Regions from separate parts of the Homo sapiens genome. Here region 2 is linked to region 1. The links come from fine-mapping of genetic effects on gene expression. A gene starts in region 1. The other region holds a variant in brackets. All regions are shown on one strand. Distances are from middle to middle.

Region 1 (5,374 bases):
TAGACAAAGATCATATTCATATTTTAGGAGTAGATTCCATTCTTTCATGGCTAAAGTTTAATCTAGAAATACATTTTCCCCACAAACTATCTAGTTTCTCCAGAATTAACATCTTTCTCACCAAACAATAGTGTTTCTACTATACCAGCATGCTGGATGATCTATGAAGAGTTTATACTGTGTATCACATTTACTGACTCGGTAAGATCACACTGTCATATCATGATGTATTTATTAATTTCTCACACTCCCATTTTGAATTCCTGAGATTACCTGTCAGGATTTAAAAAATAGAACAGGCTGAGTGCAGCTCATGCGTGTAATCCCAGCACTACAGAGGCCGAGAAGGGAGGATCACTTGAGGCCAGGAGTTCAAGACCAGCCTGGGCAACATAGCGAGACCCTGTCTCTTAAAAAAAAAAAAAAGAGGTTTTTAATTAGTTGCTTGTGGTGGCACATGCCTGCAATCCCAAGCACTCTGGGAGGCTAAGGCAGGAGGATTGCTTGAACCCAGGAGTTCCAGGCTGCAGTGAGATATGACAGCACTGCAGCACTTCAGACTGTGCTACAGATGGTCTCTTAAAAATAATAATATAAAAACATTGTTTCTCCCCCAGATTGGTAACATTTTATCCTCCAAATAATCAGAAAAGTTGAGAGCTTTCCAAGTCTCAAGGGGTGATGGGGGAGGAAACAAGACTTTTGAGAGACCATAAAAAAATCTGTGTGATGTCTGAATACTGCCATAAAAGGAAAAATAAGCCCTCAAAACTTGTGAATACCAACATTTAAAACAATGGGGCTATGTCAAATGAACTCAAATTCTTTCCTACTTAAACTGTACAAACTAGCTGTAACTATCAACTTACAAATTTTGTTTCTGAATCTGTACCTAAGAAGCTTATTTCCCCTCTTAAATGTGTAACTTCTTTTGTTTTTTCTTCTTGCTCAATCTTCTGGGCATTCAGAATATGTAACTTATTTCTGACACAGCACAAATGACCCACTTATGGCTTCAACTTTCTGAAAGTCGGTCGTTTTTAGAAAAATGATCATTCTTTAGCCAGTCTACCTACCACTGAAGTAGTTCCATCTCCAACTTCTTTGTCTTGCAGATCAGCCAGCTCACAAAGAACTTTAGCTGCAGGATGTTCTACCTCCAGTAACTTCAGGATGGTTGCACCATCGTTAGTAATGGTTACATCCTAAGAAATTCGCAGGAAAAAATATGAACCACTTATAGAAATCAACACAGCCCCATTATAATACACGTTCACCTTTAATATCACCTTCCAGTACGTGGATTCTGATAAAGTCAAAGAAAGAACATAGCAAAACACTGAAGATAGTTTTACTTTAAGGAAACTAACACAACAGTTATGTGTACTTACACCAATATCATCCACCAACATTTTATCCAAGCCAACTGGACCAAGAGAACTTTTTACAATATTGGCAATCGAAGCTGCAGCCATAACTGTAGACAATCAATTAAAAATAAAAAAGAAATGAGGATAAGCCACAACTCTGAAAGACAGTAATTTCAGCCTAAAGGTAAATGACATCCAACAGCCCCCGTATTTCCCAAATCTACAAATCTGTGTTAATTATTTAAAAACCACCTACTAAGAGTGTAAATGGGGCCAGACACTGTGGCTCACAGGTGTAATCCCAACACTGCGAGGCCGAGGCAGGAGGATCGCTTGATGCCAGGAGTTTGAGACCCCTTTGGGCAACATAGCGAAACCCATTTCTACAAAAAATAAAAACAAAGCCGGATGCGGCGGCGCGGACCTGTGCTTGGAGAATGCAGTGAGCTATGATGGCACTCTCGTCTGGGCGACAGGTGGGACCCTGTCCCTAAACAAAGCGAGCCTATTTGGCACAGCTTTGATGCGGGGTGGAATCTGATGGCGGGGAAAAAAAAAAAAAGTAATAACCACCAATTTCATGCTCTGCCACTTCGTACAGCTATACCAGCCTTTTCCTTCAGATTCTGCAAGTTTTTTGCTCATTAAAACTCTCTTTATCTGTGAGGAGAGAAATCGGTAGTCAACGGGGAAGGTGGTGACTTTCAGATTTGTTTACGAAAAAAATTAGGAATCTATCAAGAAACAGTAAGCTCTGTAGGTATCCAAAGGCCTGACAGCAAACGCTCTGCTAAGTTAGCGCTGCCGTCTCCTGGGGTCAATGCACTCGAGTGGCGTTTCCTGGGCTAACTCTACTGTAAGAAGCTGTCAACCCGGATACGGCTGGACGCCGGACGCCCGACCTCGACTGCAGCTGCGGGCGGACAGGGCACCGGGCTCATCCGAGGGCGCGCGGATGGACCTACTCTTTTTCTGGTAAATGGTCCTAAAATAAAACCTGGCGTTTAACATGGACACTCAGGGGGTCGCCCTGAAACAAAAGGGGGTGCGAGGCGTGGCCCGCACGTGCGAGCCCGGGAGGCCCGCTTTCCCGCGGAGGGCGCGTTTCCAACGCCGCCCCGGACACCACATCCACGCGTTGCCGGTCTCAAAACCCTGCCGCGCGCGGCGGGGCTCCTCCTCGCTGTGGGAAAAGTGGGGCCACAGCGCCCTGCCCCAGAGAACGGCGGGTGGGCTGGGTCCGGCTGCGGGGCCCCGAGGCCCTTTCTGCGGAGGTAAAGGAGAGAAACGAGGGCAGCCGGGGTCCGGTCGCGGTGGGACTCGGCCCTCCCCGGCCGCAAACCCGACCCAGGCCCGGCCCGCCCTTACCGTTTTGGGAGCGGATCGTTTCCCCAGTGCTGCGGTCACCGAACACGGACAAAGGCCCCTCCATCTTGACGGCAGCGATACACGTCGAATTCTGCTTACACCGCGGGCAACCAGTATCGCGGCCCCTCGGCCGACCGGCGACCACAGCAGTGGCTGCGACGGCGTGGAGCGTACCCGAGCGATGTCCCAGGAGCTACTGGGTAACACACCACCCCACCCGCTTCCCGGCTGCCCCGGCCCGGCCGCGGGGCACGGCGGGAAGGAAAAAGAGGCAGGGACAACAGGGAGAGAAACAGGACTGTGACGGAAGTGAGGCTCCGGGGAAGGGGCGGGGTCGGCATTTTTGTCCAATTAGATAGCCGATGGGAAGGGCGCGAAAGCGGAGAACGGAAGTCGGATGTTGGACCGCTGGGAAGAGGTTGAACCTTCGCCTCAAACGATGTTGCGCAGACGCAGTGGGCCATTCTAGTGCCTTCTAGAAAAGGTTGTAAGAAGGGTGGAGCTTGGAGCTGGGGTGTAACTGGAGGGGCGGGCCCTTCTCCAAGTTAGAGTTGGGGTTCTGAGCGAGTCGTGCGTTTTAGGTTTAGTGTCTTTTCCTTGTCCCTGCTCGGGGAGCGTGAGGCAGATCGGCCGGCTTTGCTCCAGGCCTCAGGAGTGTAAGTTTAAGGGCGCGAACCTGGGTGGGACGGGGCAGTTTTTCCAGCGGGCCATACGGGAAAATTTTTGGTTCGAGGAAGACAACCACCCTTTTTAAGGAGAAAACTGCATCTTGCCCTGCCTTATTCCTACGCGGTGCCCAGGTGGGGTGTGTGTGGACCAGTCGATGACCGCCCAAGCTCTCCGAGTAGAAAACCCAAACATGGTTTTGTGGGGTGTGTGCCTTTGACCCCGGACTTAAGCAACAAGCGTGGTCTTGGGCGTAGCTACGAGGTGGTTGGTGGGCTCCAGGGCCTGCGTGCCCCTCGACGTGAGCGATGATTGGCGATGAAGGATAACAGATCGCCTTCTCGGCCACTCAGTGGCAGGGGACTTGCTACTTCCGGGTCGGTGGCGTCTGGCGTGGAGAGTTTGGGGATCTACAGCAGCCAAAGGCTTGTCCCTGACTTTATATGGCTGCTCCTGGCGAGCGACTGAGTCGTCCGTGAGGAAAAAGAGGCGAGGCTTTTCCGAGATCGTCTCAGCGATGGCGCTTCGGTCGCGGTTTTGGGGGTTGTTCTCGGTTTGCAGGAACCCTGGTAATTAGTCTTGCCCCCCTTCTCCCAGCTCACTCGCCTGGGCTTGCACAGTACATTGGAACGTGCGGGTTCTATTTTGTATTCGACGTGCCGGATCGAAATAGAGCTCGCGGCACTGCGAAGACCACAGTAGGAAGTTAAGGACGGGGTCAGTGCTGACTCCACCCTGTGGGCATACGTATTTTTCGTCCCCTCGGGCCTAAAGATTGGGGGTGTAAAAGCGGATAGACGTTAGAGCGGGTTCGTGCGCTGTCCATATCCGTCATTTTTAAGCCCTGTGCGGTTTTTCCCGTTGCCCAGGGTGCAGGTTCGCAGCCCTGTCAACCAGCTCCGAGCCGGCAGCGAAACCTGAAGTGGACCCTGTGGAAAATGAAGCTGTCGCCCCAGAATTCACCAACCGGAACCCCCGGAACCTGGAGCTTTTATCTGTAGCCAGGAAAGAGCGGGGCTGGCGGACGGTGTTTCCCTCCCGTGAGTTCTGGCACAGGTAATTAAATCTGCTTGTGATTGACAAGGGCAGTGCACCCTACAGACTATTTTCATTCATTCAACTCCAGGCACTCTCCCAGGTAGCTGCCATGCGGCGGGTAGAGGCAGGGTTCGCGGAGGGGCTGGAACAAACAACAAATAGGTGTGATGGGGGCTATTTAAAGAGGATGTTACAGTAGCGGACAGGATACCTGCCTGTCTGAGGTGACATTTAAGAAGGTGAGATCTGAAAGAGGAAGAAGCCTAGTCATCTGCCAGAAAGAGCAGTCCTAGCAAAGGAAACTGCTGGGGTGAGGAACTGAAGGGCTTGTGGATCTGAAGCTCAATGGGCAGAGGATGAATGGCCCAAGATGAACATGGAGGGGTAAGGAGGCGACAGATGATTAGCTTTGTAAGTCAAGATGAGCACTTTAGACTTTCTTTTCATTATAGTGGGAAACTACGAGAGGATTTAAAGCTTGAGCCCGAATTGGTTTTTCAAGATCATTCTGGCTGGGCGCATTGTCTCATGCCTGTAATCCCAGCACTTTAGGGAGCCAGCCGAAGAAGCCGGATCATCTGAGGTCAGGAGTTTGAGACCAACCTGGCCAACATGGTGAAACCCCGTCTCTACTAAAAATATAAAAATTAGAGGGGCGTGGTGGTGCACGCCTGTAATCCCAGCTACTCCAGTGGCTGAGGCACGAGAATCACTTGAACCCAGGAGGCGGAGGTTGCAGTGAGCTGAGCGCCTGGGCGACAGAGCAAAATTCTGTCTCAAAAAAAAAAAAATCATTTTAGCTGCTTTTTGGAAGATTAAATTTTTGAGGGAGCAGGACTTGAAGAAAGACCAGTTAGGAGTCTAGTATGACTTGAGATACTTTGTTATAAAGGTGGTTGTTTAATGAACACTTACATTTGCCAGGAATTATG
Region 2 (5,374 bases), 42 kb after region 1:
AGCACAAGAGCAGCAGGGGGCCGTTCACCCCCAGGATCCAATCGTCTCCCACCAGGCCCCTCCCCCAACACTGGGGATTCCAATTCCACGTGACACTTAGGTGGGGCAAAGAGCCAAACCATATCAAGCATCATCTGCTGCCTGTTTTTATGGCCAAAGAACTCGAGTGATCTGGATCTTTGGATTGCTGACCTTTAAATAACTCGGACTGTTGTTCTGTGATGGAATCTGGGGGATGGTGGTGGTTGGCAGGAAACACTAATAACCTGTAATCAATCATCTCTCCCCTCTTCTAACACCTGTGATTATTCCTGTGTAGGCAAGAAAAGGTGTACTATATAAGGTATTCTCAGTTATCCTTTAAAAAGACTAATAAAATATGTTAAAATGTTATCTCTCGAGGGGCTCCTGGTGATTTCGAATTTCTTTGTCATATATTTTTCTGTACTATAAAAATCTTGAGTGTGCATCCCTTCAAAACCAGAAATGTACTATTTTTAAAAAATTAGTACATAGAACTTAGCATCTGAGTGATGACAGTTATATTTTAAAAGTGAAATCGGCCATGCGTGGTAGCTCACGCCTGTAATCTCAGCACTTTGGGAGGCCGTGGCAGGTAGATCACCTGAGGTCAGGAGTTCAAGACCAGCTTGGCCAACATGGTGAAACCCCGTATCTACTAAAGAAAAACACAAAAATTAGCTGGGTGTGGTGGTGAGTGCCTGTCATCCCAGCTACTCAGGAGGCTGAAGCAGGAGAATCACTTGAATTCAGGAGGCGGAGGCTGTAGTGAGCTGAGATCGCGCCACTGCTCTCCAACCTGGGCGACGAGTGAAACTCCATCTCAAAAAATAAAAAATGAAAGTGAACTTAAAGGCCAGGCACAGTGGCTCACACATGTAATTCCAGCATTTAGGCTGAGGCAGTTGGATTGCCTGAGCTCAGGAGTTCCATCCCAGGCTGGGCAACATGGCAAAACCCCATCTCTACCAAAAATACAAAAAGTTAGCCGGGCATCATGGTACCCACCTGTGGTCCCAGCTACTCAGGAGAATGAGGTGGGAGGACCACTTGAGCCTGGGAGGTAGAGGTTGCAGTGAGCCAAGATCACGCACCACTGTACTCTAGCCTGACAGAGTGAGACCCTGTCTCCAAAAAAAAAAAAGAAAAGAAAAAAAAAAGTGAACTTAAAGCTGAAAGAAAACGCACAGAAGTCTTGGTGGGGGCTACCCAGAGTAGGTGGACCATATGGTTTTATTTTCTGTATATTTAGGGATCTTTTTACCATTTTTTTTTTTACAATGAGCATGTATTTCTATCACTTTAAACATGAAAATGCATTAAAATTTTTTTGTTGAAAATAGAGCTCTCTTGTCCTGCTTGTGGGGACAGCCCTGTGAAATATCTTTAGTTCTTATTTAATTGCATTTTACTGGACACAGTCATGCCTACTTCTTTACATTAGTTTCCTGTTTCCTGCTGTAACAAGTCATCACAAATGTAGTGGCTTAAAATAGCACACAATTACCATTTTGCATTTCTGGAGGTTAGAAGTCCAACACAGCTCTCGGGGCTAAAATCAAGAAGTCGGGGCGGAAGGGCTGTGTGCCCTTCCAGAGGCCTCAGAGAGAAGCTGCTTCCTCCCCTTTTCCAGCTTCTAGAGGTCACCAACATTCCCAGGATCGTGGCCCTGTTCCTCCATCTTCAGCAGCAGCAATGTGGAATCTCTCTGATCGATCTTTCTGTAGCTTCGTCTCCTCTGACCACAGCAGGGAATGCTTTGCCATGCTTTAAGACCCATGTGATTAGGCGGACCCTCCTCCTCGGATGACCCTGGATAAACTCCCCATCTCAAAGCCCTTAATTATGTCTGTAGAGTCCCTCTTGCCACATCAGGTGCTATACTCACAGGTTCTGGGGTTAGGCTGTGGGCACTGGGCATCTTTGGGGAGCCATTATTCTGCCTGCCACATTCTCCAGCGACACACTGATGAAGCACCTGCCCAGGTAAGTGCTATTCCTACCTCATACTCCCCAGTGAGTGGGGTTAGCCCTGCGCAGTGAGTGGGGTTAGCCCTGCCCAGGAAGCAGGGTCTGATGCGGCTGAGCTGGTTACAGGCCTTGCAGACTGCGTGGCCACCACGGTGACCCAGCACCCACCATCCACCCAGTCTCCTGCGTCGCTGTTCTGGAAGCTCTGCCGCGGTGCTGGATGGCTTCACCCGATTTCAGCATTCGGAAGCTCCCCTAGAGGTCCCTCATTCTGCCCCATCCCTGCCCCAGCTCTTGCTATTGTTTGCCTTTATCCCTTTTTCCTACAGGAAGAACCAGATTCAAACATTT[G/T]CCTGCTGGCAATAGTGTTTCTGAGGAAGACACTGTGAGGGGAACTGCGGGCCGAGCCTGCTCTGAGCGCAAGATAGTAGGAGAGCTCTCTGGCACACAGCTGCCTACTCTGTCCCTACTCTCCCCTGGGAGAGAATCCCTGGTGTAGACTTAGTCCTAATCCTCAGAAGAGCTCCCCCAGTGTGTGATGTGGCTCTGCCAAAGATCGTGAGAAAGTGGAGATCCAAAAACAAGTATTCTCTGGGCAGCACAAGCCAGATAAAGTTGTTCTCAAGTTGGCTCTGGCTGGGTTTGTGGAGGGCACAGAGGCTTTGACATGTGAGCTTGTAAAGATGCTTTCTTTCCCATCCCAGGGAGCTGCCCAAACCTTCCTCGCTGCTGAGGCCGTGTCCTCAGCCCAGTGGAGCAGCAGCAGTGGCCACTGCCTGCGTGACCCTGCTGAGACCTGTGCTCGTAGTCAGATGGGATGTTCTGAACTCCTGGAAGCCAGAGGTTATAGTTTTTTAAAGACTAAAAAAGGAATATTGTATTGTGTAAAACAGAAAAGGAAGGGAAGCACTCATTCTCCCATTCCCTTATTGATCAATTTGGGCTTGTTCCTGTCTCTAAAATCTGCATGTGTTTTATACTGGAAGACCCTGGAGCGCAGGCTTTCATTCCATGCAAATGTACCTGCTCTGTACCAGGCACTGTTCCAGATGCCCCGGCTGCAGCCATTAAAGCAAAGATTCAGGAATTTGCATTTGTGTGGAGTCATTAGACAAGCAACGAGATGAGAGTGCCTGTGAGGTGATCAAGTGCTGGTTACAGAGAAACTTGGAGGAGAAGTCGGGTGCTGCCTTCCAGTGCTCAGGCAGGGTGCGCAGAGAAGGGGATGCCTGAGCAGAGACCTGGCAGAGATCAGGGCTGAGACACCTGCCCGGCTGTGGACAGAGCTCCAGGTGCTGTCTGGCCCAGGGCCCAGTGGAAGCACCTGGCCCTGCAAAGAGGCTCCAGCCACCAGGATGGCTGAGAGAACTTGGGTGGGTGAGGCAGGAGCCAAGGCCAGGGAAGAAGTGGAGGGCCGGTCAGGTGGGGCACAGAAGGCACTGGTGATTGCTTTGACTTCTCAGCAGAGGTGTGAGCCATTGAGGGGCTGCCAGCTCAGGGTGATAAGGTCTGGCTGACTAGGGAAGGAGGAAGGCAAAAGAGGTGGCTGTGGCCCAGTGGGGAGGTGTGCAGGGGCTCTAGATCTGGGTGTATTTTGACAGTGGAGCTGCTATGATGTCCTGACAGAGTGAATGTGGAGTTAAGAGAAAGAGGGGTCAAGAATGATAAAGTTTTGGCCTGAGCCAAGGTGTGGAGTTGAGGTAGAAGGTGGGACTTGACTCCGGAGGCAGGGCTCAGACACCGGGCCAAACTGAGGACTAGCTAAAACAGGTTATAGGGGAAGCAGTTTTCCAGAAAACACACCCATCAGTGTGCCATGTCAGTTTACCATTGCCATGGCGACACCCAAAAATTATTGCGCCTTTCCATGGCAATGACCCAGTGATCAGGAAGTTACCACCCTCATCCTAGAAATTTCTGCATAAACCACCCCCTAATTCATGTATAATTAAAAGTGGGTGTAAATATTAGTGCAGCCCTAAATCTGAGCTGCTCCTCTGGACACACTTCCTGGAGAGTGCCCTGTACCGCAAGGAGCAGTGCCTCTGCTGCTCCTGGATGCTGTGGCTTCAATACAAGTTGCTGTTGAACACCACTGGGTAGCTCTTGAATTCTTTCCTGGGGGAAGCCAAGAACCCTTCCGGGCTAAGTCCCAATTTTGGGCTTCACCTGTCATGCATCAGAGTTGCCATCTGGTTGTATCTAAATTGTTTTATCTCTGTGCCTGTGAATGACACAATGCTGTTGTTTCTCCTTTATTGGGGATTAGGGAAAGCAGAAAGGTGGAAGAAGGAGATGAGAGCCTCATCCAGAGCTGCAGGGCCAGGCTGAGGGCCAGGGTGCCTGGGTTCCCTAACAATGCACACCCCTCCCTTTAAATTTCCTATTTTGTGGGCACAATGGTTCACACCTGTAATCCCAACACTTTGGGAGGCTGAGGCAGGAGGATTGCTTGAGCCCAGGAGTTCGAGATCAGCCTGGGCAACATAAGGAGACTCCATGTCTAAAAATATAATAATAGTAATTTTCTTATTTTGTGTGTTTTATCATATATGCAATATATTAGTACATGGAATACATGTATGTACATTATTAATACATGTGCACAGCCAGGGTTTGTCCTCAGCTTTGTTTCAGTGATAAGGAAATAGGATTGAAATAGTTTGGAGACCGTTTGCTCTAGTAATTTCCCTGGGTTCAACGTCAACATGAGGAGTTTGACAGGGATTTATGAGAAGCCTTGGAGGCTGGTCCATGGTTAGCCACACCCAGACCTGTAGGCACAATGTCTTCAAGATCTGATGAAGTCTGACGCTACCTCCTGAAAGGGACACCCTCAATCCTGGCCGTCTTCCCTTCAGCTATTTTTTGGGTGGAGCAGAAAAGAGGTTTAACTGGCGGGTGAAATTGCACATACTTCACAGGTGGTGTCTCTCTTCTTTGGCTGGCAGTAAGGGAAGGAAGGCCCTCTGCAGCATAAAGCACACTCATCATGCCTAATCAGCGCAAGCAGGCAGGAAACAAGTGGAGCCTATCAGAAGGCAGAGTTGGACACTCCTAGCATGAAAAAAGCATTCAAAGTATTTATTCACTTATTTTATTAGAGACAGGGTCTCAATCTGTTGCCCAGGCTGGAGTGCAGGGGCATGATCATAGCTCACTGCAGTCTTCAACTCCTGGGCTCAAGTGATCTCCCTGCCTCAGCCTCCTTAGTAGTTGGGACTACTGGCACCCACCACTGCTCCCTATTAATTTTGAAAAAAATTTAGAAATGGAATCTTGCCATGTTGCCCAGGCTAGTCTCAAACTCCTGGCCTCAAACAGTCCTCCTGCCTCAGCCTGCCAAGGAGCTGGGATTATGGGCTCAAGTCATCATGCCCAG

What was found. PIP is the estimated chance that this variant, and not a neighbour inherited with it, causes the effect.
Region 2: its variant is the best candidate, but not a certain one, in a credible set for the expression of TCP1 in whole blood (INTERVAL, PIP 0.58).

The regions. Positions count from the first base shown.
Region 1 is chr6:159,786,667-159,792,040 of GRCh38, forward strand. It overlaps TCP1 (t-complex 1), which reads right to left and starts at 2,936. Exons shown (of 12, transcript NM_030752.3): 1 at 2,739-2,936; 2 at 1,392-1,477; 3 at 1,077-1,205. The coding sequence starts at 2,802. MRPL18 (mitochondrial ribosomal protein L18) reads left to right here and starts at 3,801. Exons shown (of 4, transcript NM_014161.5): 1 at 3,801-3,973; 2 at 4,274-4,460. The coding sequence starts at 3,922. RefSeq lists enhancers at 2,134-2,798, 2,799-3,462, 3,719-3,898, 3,929-3,988.
Region 2 is chr6:159,828,204-159,833,577 of GRCh38, forward strand. No RefSeq gene overlaps it. Among named protein-coding and RNA genes, the nearest start is that of PNLDC1, 31 kb to the left of the region's middle. RefSeq lists an enhancer at 2,302-3,035. The variant G/T (reference allele first, on the strand shown) is at 2,344.